Linked DNA regions of Homo sapiens: region 1 is linked to region 2. The links come from fine-mapping of genetic effects on gene expression. Tissue or cell type: blood mononuclear cells. Region 2 holds a variant in brackets; the other region holds the start of a gene. All regions are shown on one strand. Distances are between the middles of the regions.

The links. PIP is the estimated chance that this variant, and not a neighbour inherited with it, causes the effect.
Region 1: NINJ2 starts here. The variant in region 2 is fine-mapped to the expression of NINJ2 in blood mononuclear cells (TOPMed, PIP above 0.99). The same link has a PIP of 0.9 or more in lung.

The regions. Positions count from the first base shown.
Region 1 is chr12:658,987-667,165 of GRCh38, forward strand. It overlaps NINJ2 (ninjurin 2), which reads right to left and starts at 4,459. Exons shown (of 4, transcript NM_016533.6): 1 at 4,342-4,459. The coding sequence starts at 4,374. RefSeq lists an enhancer at 7,657-8,156.
Region 2 is chr12:617,531-625,709 of GRCh38, forward strand. The region is part of intron 1 of NINJ2 (ninjurin 2); the gene reads right to left. Among named protein-coding and RNA genes, the nearest start is that of NINJ2-AS1, 9.3 kb to the right of the region's middle. RefSeq lists enhancers at 5,439-6,183, 6,184-6,927. The variant C/G (reference allele first, on the strand shown) is at 4,327.

The DNA.
Region 1 (8,179 bases), 41 kb after region 2:
TAAAACTGCTATTACATATATAGTTGCTATTCTCTCTATATATAACTGCTATTATATATTATATATAATATATATATAATATATAACTGCTTATATATATATATGTCTTTAAAAACAATAAAACAAACAAACAAACAAAAACACTCCCAGAGTACTTTGCCTATAGACCTTCTTCTATTCATAAGTGTTTTTACCTCCACTCCCATCTCATTCTATCTGTATCTCGCTCTACTTAACCTGAGCTATACTGAATTTGCATTCGGTTTGGACAAGTCTTAGTTCCTCTTTTGGCAGATCATCTTCACATTTCCATCAACATGCAGCACAGGTGGAAAAAAAGGGGCCAATAACTGGATCTGCCTGGGGAATCTGGAAGCCCAAGAGGAGCTGCATTTTGGGAAGGAGCCAGGCTAGGGGCTTAAACTCTGTACTTGGGGGTAGGGTTGCAACACTGGCTCGAAGGGGAAGAAAGGGATTATCCTCAACCTTTCACACATCCAGACTCTGGGAGATGCGCAGGCTTAGCTCCCTGGCAGGGCTACCAGTGAAGGCAGGGAGAAGGGCAGAGGCTTGGAGGCCACAGCCACAGGCCATAGAACAGAAGGAGCAGCTCCAGGCATCCAGCTGGTGGAGGCCACCTGCCCTGAGTGCTGTGCGCCACTCTTCACAGCCAGCTGTGCTGCTGCTACCCATCCCAGTCTCACAGGTCTTGACCTGGAGATACATTTGCAACATTGATTATAGAGGCTCAAGTTAATGTTATTTTAGATTAGAGTTTCCCAAACTTCAGTTGTGCCATGTTCAGGGTTTCAACGTCTCAGTGCAGTAGTAGGTGCGGGCACACACACCTGTGATCCATGTCACCCAGGGCTGCCGTACTTCTGAACAGGTCAGACAGAAACAGTTACTAAGACATTGAGGGTATGCCCAGGTCATGTGCAAGGACTGTATAAAGGTGTCAAAAAACTTCCTGCCACTTACTTGAGGCTCATCCTAAGCAATAAAAATGTTGGAATTGCCTGGACATGTGGCTCATGCCTGTAATCCCAACACTTTGGGAGGCCAAGACAGGAAGATCACTTGAGACCAGCAGTTAGAGACCAGCCTGGGCAATACAGTGAGACCCCAATCACTAAAAAAAGAAAAAAAAAATTAGCTGGGCATGGTAGTGCACATGTGTGGTCCCAGCTATTTAGGAGGCTGAGGCAGGAGGATAACTTGGGCCCAGGAGGTTAAGGCTGCAGTGAGCCAAGATTGCACCACTGCACTCCTGCCTGTGTGACACAGCAAGATCCTGTCTGTTAAAAAAAAAAAAAAAAAAAAAAGGAATCACAGGTCTGATAAGTTGTTATGCTTTCTTTCTTTTTTCTTTTCTTTTTTTTTTTTTTGAGACAGAGTCTCAAAAGTGCAGTGGCACGATCTCCGCTCACCACAACCTCTGCCTCCCAGGTTCAAGCAACTCTCCTGCCTCAGCCTCCTGAGTAGCTGGGACTACAGGCGTACACCACCACGCCTAGCTAATTTTTGTATTTTTAGTAGAGACAGGGTTTCACTATGTTGGCCAGGATGGTCTGCAACCCCTGACCTCGTGATCCGCCCACCTCAGACTCCCAAAGTGCTGGGGTTACAGGCGTGAGCCACCTAGCCCGGCCCTGTTATGCTCTTTCTAATGAATACTGAAACTATAAAGATGGCCAGCTATGGTGGCTCACACCTGTAATCCCAGCACTTTGGGAGGCCGAGGCTTGTGGATCATTTGAGGTCAGGAGTGCAAGACTAGCCTGGCCAATATGATGAAACCCTGTCTCTACTAAAAATATGAAAATTAGCCAAGTGTGGTGGTACATGCCTATAATCCCAGCTACTTGGGAAGCTGAGGCAGGAGAATCACTTGAACCCAGGAGGCGGAGGTTGCAGTGAGCTGAGATTTTGCCACTACACTCCACCCTAGGCGACAGAGTGAGACTCCATCTCAAAAAAAACTGTAAAAATAAACATTATAATAAAAAGCTGTCAGCCATTGATGTACCTTTACCACCCATTGGTGATAATTGTACCACATTTTGGGGAAACATTGTTTTAACTAAAGAGTGTTATTGTTTTGTTTTTAGAGATAGGGTCTGGCTCTGCCGCCCAGGCTGGAGTGCAATGGCATGATTGTAGCTCACTGCAACCTTGAACTCCTGGCTTCAAACAATCCTCCCACCTCAGCCTCCCGAGTAGTGGGGACTACAGGTGCATGCCACCATGCCTAGCTAATTACTTTTAAATTTTTAATAGAGATAGGGTCTTGCTATGTTGCCCAGGCTGATCTCTAGCTCTTGAGCTCAAGTGATCCTCCTGCCTCAGCCTCCAAAATGCTAGGATTACAGGCGTAGGCCACCGTGCCCAGCCAAAGGTGGACAATAAATTGTAGAAAATAATGGATAACCTTCTGAGCAAAGGAAAATGTAAGATACAAGAATTAAATAGCATATTAGAAGAGAGTGAATGACAAATGAAGAGAAAGGTACACTAACACCTCAGTTACCTGCTAGAGAGAGACATTCATCCAGCCTAGCCAGTCATTTCCTTCTCCTTCCTCCCACCACCTCTTTCCTTCTGAACCTCTGGTTCAGATGCAGAGTCCTTAGCCTGTAACTCTGGATCGTTCAACCCATCAGCACATAAGAAACTTGCTCTTCTGAGAATGAAAATAAGCAGCAACACAATTTCCTTAACAACCAAGGATCTTATAGAGGCAAGAACTAGAAGTAAGAAGAAAACACATACTAGGGACAGAAGACATGGACTGGAGGTCTTGGGCCAATTAGGTGACCTTATTCCTATCTCAGAGCCTCTCCAACTCATGGCTTCCTCAACTCATTCATTTAACAAATGTTTTCTAAAGCAATGACCGTGTACCAAGAGTTGCCTCATGCACTCGGGCTGCAGCAGTGAATAAAACAGGAGAGGCCCTGCCCTCAGAGATCTTGTGTCCTAGTGAGAGTGACAGGCAATACATACTAAATAAATAAGCAGTGTAACTTTAGGTGGTGAGCAGTGCTATGAAAGAAATTAAACAAATGATAAAGACAAATTGGGGAGGAGGCATCCTGTGAAGAGGTTGGTCAGGGGAGGGCTCCTGGGGGAAGTAACATTTGAGCTGAGACCTGAATGTACTAGGAAGGGCCAGCCAGGAGATAAGCCAGGGAAAGAAGGTTCCAGACAGAGGGACAAGCAAGCCTTGCGGTGGGACCGCTCTCGGGGCTGGCTGCCAATCCAGGAAAACAGCACTGGGTATGCAGTTGTACTAGGTGAATGGTTTTGACACAGCACACCAAGCAGTCCTACAGTTCCCTGGTGGTGTCTCAAGGGCGGAGGGGCCAAGGACAGAGACTCTGCCAGACTCACGCCACCCTGCCCAAAACACACACAGAGAACGAGAGAGAGAGAGAGAGAGAGAGACGCGTGCACATACTCTGCTTCAACAAAACAGCTCTTCTTTAATCCGAAGTGTATATTGGGTGGCTGCTTAAGATTTTGTTCGAGGACCAGGTTCAGGGATCAGAAATTCTTGATCTCAAAAGTCCTTTTCCACACTTTGTTTGATTCTCTGCAATGTTACACAGCCTCAGCAGTGGTCATAGAAGGGTTCGTTCTATTCTATCCATTGGCAAGGAGTCACAGAGTGCAGCTCCCAGCAATCTGGCTCTCCTCTCACCGTAACATCCCACCCTTTCCCCTCCAGCAGTGGACTGGAACCTCTGATGCCTTCCAAGCCCATCCCAGCTACAGAGGGACACACATCTCTGCCTCTTCCTAGGAGATTAGACTGATTTCCTTTCCTTGCACTGTCCAAATGAGACGCTTTCTGTCCTACACAGTAGAGCTTTGTGAAGACAGCCGAGAAACGGCTCAAGTTTTTTCCAACCTGTAAAATGCAAAGTTGGCCAGCTGCCTCTCTTCCTAGCCTCAAAACTCATATATTTCCTGTCTCCCCGGCAGCTCTAAGAGAAGTCTCTACTGTCCTGGGGTTTGGGGAAAGCACTGCTCAGAATGTGAAATCATTTTCTGGTAATACGGATCTAATTAGCTCTTTGACTGACAAGAGGAAGCAGAGGCCAAAAGGGAGTTAACCAATCTGTTTTTCAGATATTTCAAAACAAGTGAAGAACCAGATAGGGAAACAGAGAGAAAGAGAAAATAAAGAGACAAAGCCTAGGGAGCATTTGGAGAAGGGAGTGAGTAAGAAGAGAACGGGGAGGGAGAATATCAAGTGACTAAAGTATCAATCCTCTGTTCTTCCAGCTTCACCTCTACTCCCGGTCTCCCCTCTGCTCTCTTCCAGAGAGAACTTACTTGAAGGTCGATGTTTTCTCTTGCTGATTCCATCTCGCTGCCCTCAAGTCCCTTCACACGCACCGGGTGCCGGGAACAGACTGCGTGGGCTCCTCCAGGCTCCGCCGTCTGAGTCTCTGCTGCTTTCTTCGGGTGGGAGAGAGCACACAGCTGGCGGGACAGACCTGCCATTCATCCCTCTGATGTGGGATGCCCGTCTTGGCTGCAGCCTCTGGGGGAGGTGTGCACCTGCACACACGTGTGAGTGTATGTGTGTGCACATGTGTGTGCTCCAGGAGGTGGCACATGGCACACTGATAGGTGACCTTTTGAGTTGGTAGTGACAGCATCATTTTCACCAGTGGCTCCAGTGACCTTCCAGTCCCAGCGGAGCCATCTGAGGTCACCCAGCCTGCTTTGAGCTAGTAGCTTTATGACTGGCAAAGAAATCCTGCATGTTTATCAAGCAAATTGAAAAACAGCCTGAGGACAACGCTATCTGACTTCACCGCTGGGTCCAGTCCCCAGTCGCCACGGGTGGAGTGACCTCCAGCACAGTCTCAATACTGAGGCAGAGGGATTTCCGTTGTTCTTTGCTTTGTTCCCTATATCCCTAAAAGTTTTTAAAAAAATTGTAGTTTACCTAATAGGCTCCAAAGCATAGGCTTTGTTCTGCAAAGTGAGTGAACAATACGTTTTTACTGACGGATTGTTTGATTCCTTCAACTCCTCCCTTGATTAGCCATAGAGGGAGCAGGGAGTAGTTGTACCTTCGAAGCTTGTTTATGCAAACAGTGGTATTCTCCCTACTTTTAAAATAAAATTACCAGGAGGGAGTCTTTTTTTAGAAAGTTTTTTTTTTCCTCTCCTGTTTACCTTAGAGCCCAAAACTCTTCTGGCTTGTTCCTGAAGCAAGGTTTAGACACAAGCTTGTGCAGGTGTGGGTGTGGGTATGTCTGTAGACGTGCATGGCAGGGTGTTAACCTGTAATCCAATTCAGGGCTTGAAGAGGTGCGGGCAGGAGGAAGACAGGCAGAGTCAACACGTTTACCCTCACCACATTCAAATGTAAAAAAAAAAAAAGGCGATTTCTTCAGTTCTATGAAATGCCTTTATAAGTTCCCATCCCTCTGGACAGTGGTGCGAGGGAGGGTTGGATGATTGGATGGGGGCCATATTTTAGTCTAATCTATGAAGCATAGTTGGATTTAATCATTTAAATGGTAAACAGTCCACTTTAGACACAATGCTCAGTCTTTCGGATTTGCAGAAGATGGCACCTAGGTGCACAGGAGGGCGGGGTGGGGACGGTTCTTGCATCTATCCTGTGGCCTCTCCATCTCGGCTCCTTTCTGTTCTGGAGCTGCTGGGCCCACGGGCCCGCCCGAATTGCTGACTGCTGAGGAGACACAGGTCCTGCTCCTGGGTCTTCTGCTGGCCTTGGTGGCTGATGTCTGATATTAGGCCAGAGTCACTCATGGGTGATTCTCTTTCTGCCTTTGAGATCCAGTGTTCTCCCTTGCTGTCTGCGCTACCTTGGCTCGTGGCAATGTGGACCATCCTGAGACCTGGCTTTGACTTGTATGTGCCCCCATCCCACTGTATCCGCTCAGTGGCCCACATCTCTAAGATAAGCCCCTCGAAATTTTCCTGTGAGATGCTTGACCAGTGCTCCTGAGCCCCCTTAGGCACATGGGGACTGAGGGCTGCTGACGAAGGGCAGGGGAAAGGCAAGCTCAGCCCCACTTCCAGCAGAGTTTGCTCTGATGTGGCTGCTCCAACTGACACAGGGCAGTCTGCGAGGTGATCTCCTTCCACATTCCTGAATGGAAATGAGACCTGGAACCCACTCTTCTCAGCACTCCTTAAAAAGTCTACCAGTAATATCTATCACCCCACCGCTCATAATAATACCACTATGTATCAAGCACTATTCTAAGCACTTTTTTTTTTTTGAGATGGAGTCTCGCTCTGTTGCACAAGCTGGAGTGCAGTGGCGCCATCTCGGCTCACTGCAACTTCTGCCTCCTGGGTTCAAACGATTCTCCTGCCTCAGCCTCCCGAGTAGCTGAGATTACTTCTTCCCATAGTCCCCTTAATCTAGAATCAGAAAATGTACGCTTTGTCTTCTTTTTTTTTTTTTTTTTCCTGTTTGGCTGGGATGTATCTGATGTAGAACTCTATGACAACAATTCAAAGGGAAATGAAGAAATTTAGAAAATCCTCTCTCTCAAGAAAACCTGGTTGTCAAAAATATTGTCTTGGCTGGGCAGCATGGCTCATACCTGTGATCCCAGCACTTCGGGAGGCCAAAGCCGGAGGATCTCTTGAGCCCAGGAGTTCAAGACCAGCTTGAGCAACATAGTGAGATCCCATCTGTAGAAGAACTTTTTGGCTGGACATGGTGGCTCACACCTGTAATCCCAGCATTGTGGGAAGTAGAGGCAGGAGGTCACTTGAGCCCAGGGGTTCAAGACCAGCCTGGGAAACACAGTGAGATCCTGTCTCTACAAAAAAAAAATTTTTTTTTAATTTAGCTAGATGTGGCAGCTTGCAGCACCTGTAGTCCCAGGTACTTGGGAGGCTGAGGTGGGAGGATTGCTTGAGCCTGGGAGCTGAAGGCTGCAGTGAGCTATGATCATGACACTGTACTCCAGCCTGAGTTGACAAAGCAAGACCATGTCTTAAAAAAAAAAAAAAACTTTCTGGAAAACCTTATTTCGGATGCCAGAAGCAAAATATTAACTATTTATTTCTCTTTGCACTCCTGTTGTGAAAATCCTCATTATCTTTTAAATAATATGGATACATCTGGCTGAATAGAGGGAAACAGGAACAAAAAAATGCAAAAGAGAAAAGTACTCGAATATATTTCAAAAAATTTCCTATTAATAAGCACATTGGTTTGAAAAGGAAACAGCTGTAATTGGTTATAATAATGGTTTTGGTTTGGCAAGATCTTTCTGGATTTGGACCTTTCCCCATCTCATAAGCATCATTTGGAAGTAAACAGAAAAAAGGCTTTGGAAAATGGTTTATCTACCATATCACGCTGTAACCCTGGACCAGGGGTCAGCAAAGTTTTTCTTTTTCATTTTTCCCTTTTATAAAATTCAAATTGCTATATGAAGCTTTTTTAATTTTAATTTTAATTTTTTGAGACGGGGTCTCACTCTGTCACCCAGGCTGGTGTGCAGTGGCACAGTCTCTGCTCACTGCAATCTCTGCCTCCTGGGCTTAAGTGATCCTCCCACCTCAGGCCCCAACCCCCAGCCCAGTAGCTGGGATTACAGGCGCGTGCCACCATGCCTGGCTAATTTCTGTATTTTTTGTAGAGACGGGGGTTTCGCCATGTTGCCCAGGCTGGCCTCAAACTCCTGAGCTCAAGCGATCCGCTCACCTCGATCTCTCAAAGTGCTGGAATTACAGGCGTGGGTCACCATGCCCAGCCAGTAAACTTTTTCTGTAAGGGGCCAGAGAGCCAATATTTTTTAGCCTTTGTGTGTCATATGGTTTCTGCTGCGATGACTCACTTCTATAATAATGTGAAAGCAGTCATAGACAACATGTAAATGAACGAGTGTGGGAGTGTTCCAATAAAACTTTATTTACAAAAAGAGTCAGATATTCATAAAAACAGACCGGAGTTGGCTCCACAGGCTATAGTCTGCTGACCCCTGCTCTAGGATTTAATCAGAGTCTTTGAAGTCTAATTCCCACTTGAGAGGCAACTACTGAGTCTCTACCACGTGGATATTGGGTTAAACACTGCGGGGATATAAAAGCACCACATGCACGCCCTGGTGAGACAACTGATGGCAAGGGAAGCTGTAGTGAAGAGTGTTGCTGCCATTTGGCT
Region 2 (8,179 bases):
ACATTAGAGGATGCCTGTGCAGCTCTGAAGCTCCTGGGGATAAAAGGCTCAGGCTGCTGTGCTTCTTCTCACAGGTCCCTGAGCTCCCCCAGGGCTTTCCTACACAGAAGGCCGGCTGGCTGAGCACTCCCAGCTGCAGCCCCGCTGGCGTCGCCGTGTTTTCTGTGCTCTGCGCTCACTCCCCAGGACGTTCTGGTTTCCTCATCTCAGCTCTCTTTGTTTAGCCACAGAGATTGGGCAACTTCTGTTGGGCAGCGAGGTCAGGGCCCTGCCTCCTAAGAAGGGGCCTCTCCCTCACAGGTCAGTCTGAAGTCACTTGTTCTCCAAGCCCTTGCTCACCCCAGGGCCCTGACACTCAAGTCCATCCAACACCAGGTGCCTCTTTCTCTGGGCACTTGGTGCCCAGGTAAAATTTTCAGATATTATTGCTGTTTTTAACATTATTCAGTGAATAACGTACTCTGGTGGTCTGAAAGGGATAAGGGGGGATTCTGATTTACGGATTTAATGTCAGACTGCATAAAAGCCTCCTCTCTCTCCTTCGGAAGTTTTCTAGGGTGCTAGGTGGCAGCAACCCTGTTCTGTCAATAGGACCATCTGAACCCGTAGGAGCTCCTTGCTGGACAATGCCAAAGTGCGGCTGCAGTATGTGGTTAAAAGTCCCGTGGAGAGTTGGTAATGAGGAGGTGGGGGTGAGGAGTTGGTAATGAGGAGGTGGGGGTGAGGAGTTGGTAATGAGGTGGGGGTGAGGAGTTGGTAATGAGGTGGGGGTGAGGAGTTGGTAATGAGGTGGGGGTGAGGAGTTGGTAATAAGGTGGGGGTGAGGAGTTGGTAATGAGGTGGGGGTGAGGGGGGAGTGTTGAGAAGGCAGTATGCCACTCTGGAACCCCAGAACAGCATTTTAGGACTCAGGGCCCAGAGGCGTTTTAGGACTATGGAAACTTACCACAGGAAGGGCTTTAGTAATCAGTTGTGCCTGATCTGTCTATTTTACAGAGGAAGAAACTGAGGCTCAGAGAGGCATATAACCTACCAGCAGGCTTTGGTTAGTGATCTGGGTTGACCCAGTGAAGGTCAGTCTGACAGCACTGTGGCCCAGGGCCCTCTCAGTCATGGCACCAGAGCCTCGGGCTCCAAGGAGACTGCAGTTTTGGATCAGGAGCCGAATTGCCTCTTATCGCAGAAGTTCTGTCTCCATCTGCAGGGAAAAGGAGGCTCTTGGCCTCCCAGGGTAGCAAAAGGCAAACACACTTGGTTACCGGGAGCCCTTGAGAAGGTGGCAAGAGTGGAGAAGAGCAAACACCCGACTCCCTCCATCTCTGGCTTTGGCTCTAGACTCAGATGGTTTAGAGCCAAGGCCTCCAATGGCCTCTCAGAGCTCTCAGAGAGCCCTGTTCAGGTGCAGAAAAACTGGTCTCGTGTATTCTCCATGGGTCCCCACAAACAACAGATTATCAGAAAGGTCAGGCTTCTTTCTGACAGGGGCAGCAAAACTAAATCCCAGAACTTCTAAAGGTCACGTGCCTTGTGGAGAAATAGTTGGGGAGTGAGGTGCCCGCAATTTCTTTTGAGGAGAGCAGTGGCTAGAAGGAATGGTCCAGGAGGGGGGCAGTTTATTGTCAGGACCATTGGATGGAGTCCAGCAAGTATTTATCAGGAGTTGATGGTGTGTGCAGCCCCAAGCTGGGCACTTGGGGTAGGGGATGGAGAGTATGTTTAGGACTTGGCCCCTGCTTACAAGGTGCTTGCTGGCAATATAAGATTCTCATATGTGATTCAAAAAAGAGAAAAGGCAGAAGCTATGTTAATGGCCAAAGAGAACATGCTTTAGAAGGAATGAGAAAAATCAGTGTGGGCTCCTCTAGTTCTGAAGAGCTTCATGGAGTGGGGCGATCTTTACACAGCCCCACACCCTGCAGTCAGTGTGTGAACTGAGGAGAGAGGTGGGAATGAGCATAGGAACTCACCCTTTCTAACCTCCTTTGTACACAGGCTGTGAGCTAGAATTAGAATGTAAAGAACGCTGTGTCCTCCAAGGGTGGCATATTGCCTGCGGAGTCCTCCTGGGCCCTTGCAGGATGTGGCCAAGATGCTTGGTGCTGCAGATAGTCTCCCGGAAGAGAGGGGCTTACACATTCTTGGTAAGCTGTGGCTGGGTTTAGAATGATTCCTTGGGAAAAGGGGTAGCAAAGTAACTTTGTCCTGAAGAAGCCCCAAGTATCCTGAGCCCAGCAGCCTTACATAAAGTAGTATTGCATAGTGACTACCATTTCAGGGTCTGGATTTAGACTTGGCTTTGAGTCCTATCTCTGCAGCTTTTAGTAACTGTGTGACATTGTCATTGACCTCTCTAAGCTTCAGTTTCCTCATCTATAAAGTGAAGATAATATTCCTTAATGGTCAGGGTTATAGTGAGGACTAAGTGAGGGAGGGCTCAGCTGCCAGCTTGGCATCCTCAGCCCATGGCAGCCGTGTCATGGCTTTGTGCTCCAGTTTGTTGCCAGGGCCTGGTGTTTCATGGTTCACTCTCTTGTCTGACTGTTTCCCAGATCAGGCAAGCCCTAAAGCGTCCTTTCATCCCTTTGGACACCTCCTAGTGACGGGAGAGCACAGGCAGTATGGGAGTGGGAAACTGGATGTCATAGCTGAGTGTCCATTCTATAGCTCGTGGGCATCATGCCATGGGCATCTCTTGACATAGTCAAGAGACCTGGATGGAAATGGGCCCCAAACTACTTCACTAGGAGCTTTGTTTTCCTAGACCACAGTTTCTTCATCTATAAAATAAACAGCTTAAATTAGACCAGCGATCCCCGCTTTGCGGGAAGGGGAGAGGGTCTCAGACAGTATGGGGTCCCTGAATCCAGATGCACAGCAAACATTGCCTAGAGAACAAATAGATGATGCGTCTCACACATAAAGCCTGTGCTGTTTGTCAAATGCACAGAGGTGCTGCTATAATTTTTAAGATACATGTAAAAAGTATTACTGAATGCATGGTAGCTTTTTCTCAGCATGCAGTTCTTCATTTGTAGATACTAAAAGTACAATTATGATTACTTGGAAGGATCCAAAAGTGGTTTTGAAGTTTGTTTGTTTGTTTGTTTGTTTGTTTTTGAGACAGAGTCTTACTCTGTCACCCAGGCTGGAGTGCAGTGGCGCAATCTTGGCTCACTGCAACCTCTGCCTCCTGGGTTGGAGTAATTCTCCTGCCTCAGCCTCCGGAGTAGCTGGGATTACAGGTGTGCGCCACAATGCCTGGCTAATTTTTGTATTTTTAGTAGAGACGGGGTTTTGCCATGTTGGCCAGGCTGGTCTTAAACTCCTGACCTCAGGTGATCCACCCACCTCGGCCTCCCAGAGTGCTGGGATTACAGGCATGAACCACTGCTCCCAGCTAAGGTTTTGAAGTCTTAAAGAGGTACTCAGGCTTGAAAAGTTTGGCTACCACTGGATGAGATGAAGGACTTACTCAGCCTCTCCTGGATGTGGCTCCTAATTCCAACCTAACAAACAAGCACTCCTGAGTCTCTAGCTTCACGTCCTTCTTGAAGAAATAGCAGCTACTAGAAGAGGTTCCCCTGTGGCAGTGAAGACAAACTAGAAGGAGAGACAAGTAAGAAAGAGTAGTGTACAACCAGGCATGGTGATTCACACCTGTAATCCCAGCACTTTAGGAGGCTGAGGCAGGAGGATTGCTTGAGCCCAGAAGTTCAAGACCAGCCTGGGCAACATAGAGAGATGCCATCTCTATAAAAAAATTTAAAAAAAAAATTAGCCAGGCATGATGGCACACACTTGTAGTCCCAGCTACTTGGGAGGCTGAAATGGGAGAATTGCTTGATCCTGAGAGTTTGAGGCTGTAGTGAGCTGTGATTGCACCACTGCACTCCACCCTAGGTGACAGGGTAAGACCCTGTCAAAAAGAAAAGAAAGAAAAAGAAAAAAAAAGAAAGAAAGAAAAGAAAAAGAAAAGAAAAAAAGAAAACAGAAAAGAAAAGAGAGAGAGCCTGGGCACAGTGGTTCACAACTGTAATCCCAGCACTTTGGGAGGCCGAGACGGGAGATGGGAGATCAAGAGATCAAGACCATCCTGGCCAACATGGTGAAACCCCATCTCTACTAAAAATACAAAAATTAGCTGGGCATAGTGGCGTGTGCCTGTAGTCCCAGCTACTCAGGAGACTGAGGCAGGAGAATCACTTGAACCCGGGAGGCAGAGGTTGCAGTGAGCCAAGATTGCGCCACTGCACTCCAGCCTGGTGACAGAGTGAGACTCCGTCTCAGAAAAAAAAAAAAAAAGAGAGAGAAAGAATAGTGTGGCCA[C/G]GCACTGTGGCTCACACCTGTAATCCCAGCACTTTGGGAGGCCGAGGTGGGTGGATCACAAGGTCAGGAGTTCGTGACCAGCCTGGCCAAGATGGCGAAACACTGTCTCTACTAAAATTAGCCAGGCATGGTGGCAGGTGCCTGTAATCCCAGCTGCTCAGGAGGCTGAGGTAGAGAACTGCTTGAACCTGGGAGGCGGAGGCTGCAGTGAGCTGAGATCACGCCACTGTACTCCATCCTGGGTGACAGAGCAAGACTGTGTCGGGAAAAAAAAAAAAAAAAAGGCCAGGCGCAGTGGCTCATGCCTGTAATCCCAGCACTCTGGGAGGCCGAGGCGGGCGGATCATGAGGTCAGGAGATCGAGACCACGGTGAAACCCCGTCTCTACTAAAAAATACAAAAAATTAGCCGGGTGCGGTGGTGGGTGCCTGTAGTCCCAGCTACTCAGGAGGCTGAAGCAGGAGAATGGCATGAACCCGGGAAGCGGAGCTTGCTGTGAGCTGAGATCACGCCACTGCACTCCAGCCTGGGTGACAGAGTGAGACTCCGTCTCAAAAAAAAAAAAAAAAAAAAAAAAAGGAAAGAAAGAAAGAAAGGGGCTACCTAAAGAGAGGAAGACAACTTTTATAAGAAACTCTGGGAAATGCTCAGGACTCTATTTGTTTAAAGGCCCTTTTTAAGAAATGCTTGCCACTTCCTAGTATTTGTCATTGTTTCCTACTGCACACGTTTGCAGCATATGGGAAGTGGGAGGAGTTAGAATGTCCTCCAAATTCCCCTGACACCCAGTTCCCACCTTCATCCTCTAGAAAAATGTGTTGCTTTGTTTTGTTTAACTTTTCGGGTCACAGACCCTTTCAGAATCTGATAAAGGTGATGGACCCCCTACCTCACCCTAAATGCAGTCACACACGGATAGCTTTTCTTTTTTTTTTAATTTTAATTTTTTTCATGAATAACTTTTCACATAATTTCAGCAGGTTCATCGCCTCCTGAGTTCACATGGACCCCCTTGGGAATTTATGGACACCCCCGCCCAGGTTAGGAAAACCTGCTCTTGTGTGGGTTGCTTCAAACAAGTTTAAATTTGCCTTCTCCTAGTTGTCCATAGATCTAAGCTTTTTCTAAAAGTCCCATGGAACTTGTAATGAGACCTCTAAATGTCCCATATCCCAAAATGCTGTTGTAGGCTTCTTAGATTTTGGAAGACCAGATCAGCAAAAGACAGCATGCACTCAGGTGGAATATTGCAAAGGTAGACATCAGCTCAAGGCTAGCTTCTCTGGGCAGCTGGTGCAAGGTGAATGGAAGCAAGATAGGGGCTCAGGAACAGAGTCCATCTGAGAGCCAGCACTCCCTCCTGACAGTGACAGTTTTGTAAGTTTCTGTCCTAGGAGCTGTGGGCCTGCAGACCTGTGGTCCTTGAAGTGGAAAGCTGCTCCCATCTCTAGGAAGGATCTCCCAGCCTCTGTCCCCCTCCCCCACTGCTACCCGAGCAGCTCTCCCTTCACCTCAGGCCCTGTGTGACACACCTTTCCCCAGGGTTCCTGCCCCGGCAGCCTGCCCTGTCTGTTAGTGCTGTGAGTCTCTGAATGTACCAGCCAAAATCAGGGAAGGTTTCTTCCCACCCACTCAAAACTTCACTTTTCTCATCATCCAAACTCCGAATCTAAAAGCCTAGTTGTTATTTACCAACTTGCGTCCAAATCCACTCTTGGGCTTAGTTTGCAACCAGCATGTACCCTGGGATGAGTGAGAGGCGACAGGCTAGGAAGGGATCTGGGGTTTATTAGTGACAGACCAGGCTGCTAGGTTTGGCTGAGGTGCCACAATTTGCACCAGGCAAGGGAGGTGAATTCAAATACCAGGATGTTGGGCAATATTTCAAAGAGTGAGGCTGGGCATGGTGGCTCATGCCTGCAATCCCAGTACTCTGGGAGGCTGAGGCAGAAGGATCGCTTGAGCCCAGGAGTTCAAGACCAGACTGGGCAACACAGTGAGACCCTGTCTCTACAAAAAATTTTAAAAGTAGCTAGGTGTGGTTGTGCACACGCCTGTAGTCCCAGCTGCTCAGAAGGCAGAGGTAGGAGGATCGCTTGAGCTCAGGAGGTCAAGGCTGCAGTGAGCTGTGATCACACCACTGCATTCCAGCCTTGGTGACAGAGCGAGACTCTGTCTCAAAAACAAAAACAAAAACAAAAACAAAAAACAAAGAATGAAATTCATTGCTATTACAGCCCTTCCTCTACCCTCACCCTGAACTCTACGTCCCATCCTCTTACTCTACAACCTACTATGCAAATGACTCATTGTTCTCTACAATGTTACCCCACTGGGTTCAATCCTATCTGAGCTTTGTAGGACTCCAAACCTATGTGTAAAGGTATGAGCACTTCAAAGGAAGATTGGCAGGGAAGGCCAATCCTTCTGCTTATGTATTTTATTCTTTGATTTTAAAAATCAATTTATCCAATAGATATTTATGGAGCTCTAACTGGGTTAGGATACTAGTGTATGGGGATACAGAAAAATACAAAGATATACCAGGATACTGGAATACGGGAAAATGTATGAATGAATGAGATCTGGATTCACTTTCAAGGAGCTTGCCGTCTAGTAGAGGAAATGACATACAAATAAGCCACAACACATGGTATAAAAAATATATATGGCCGGGCACAGTGGCTCACACTTGTAATCCCAGCACTTTGGGAAGCAGAGGAGGTAGATGACCTGAGGTCAGCAGTTCAAGACCAGCCTGGCCAACATGGTGAAACCCTGTCTCTACTAAAAATACAAACAATTAGCCAGGCGTGGTGGCATGTGCCTGTAATCTCAGCAACTTGGGAGGCTGAGGCAGGAGAATTGCTTGAACCCAGGAGATGGAGGTTGCAGTGAGCCGAGATTGCGCCACTGCACTCCAACCTGGGAGACAGAGTGAGACTCCATCTCAAAAAAAAAAAAAAAGATGGCTGGGCGCGGTGGCTCACGCCTGTAATCCCAGCACTTTGGGAGGCCGAGGTGGGTGGATCACCTGAGGTAAGGAGTTCGAGACCAGCCTGGCCAACATGGTGAAACCCCGTCTTTACTAAAAATACAAATATCATCCTGGCATGGTCGTGAGCACCTATAATCCCGGCTACTTGGGAGGCTGAGTAATGAGAATTGCTTGAACCTGGGAGGTGGAGGTTGCAGTGATCGTGCCACTGCACTCCTGCCTGGGCAACAAGAGAGAGACTTCATCTCAAAAAAAAAAAAAAAAAAGATATATATATAGATATATAGATATATTTGCCCTAGCTTAGTAACTATCATTAGCAAGTGATATTTAAGCTGGACTCTGAAGGATGGGTAAGAGTTGGAGAGACAAAGATGAGGAAAAGGCATCTAGGTGGTAGGAATGGTATGCCAAGAGCCTTGGAAGCAGCAGGTGGACCTACATGCAGACTAGCAAATAGTTCTATTTGGCAAGAACATAGGGAGAGGGAGTAGACAGAGAGAAGGTCAGAAAGCCAAGGTGAAGTCGAGACCTTGCATTTCAGGCTGAAGAGTAGTTTGGGAATTTCAGGGGAATCACTGAAGGTTTTTGAGTAGAGTTCATGGTGATCATAGCTGTATCCTAGAAAAATTAATTTGGGAGTTCTCTGGAGGCTACGTTGAAGAAAAAGAAAGCATTGGGTAGGGGTATTAGAAGAGGGAACATCTACAGGAGCCTTTTCCAGCAAGCTACTTCTGGTCAACTAAGCCAAAAGGGACCTTGGCCTCCGTTCTCTATGGTCCTCACTGTCTGGACCTCTCATGGACGGTACAGAAAGACAATATAGTTGTTAGGGGCAGAGTCTACTATAAAGTA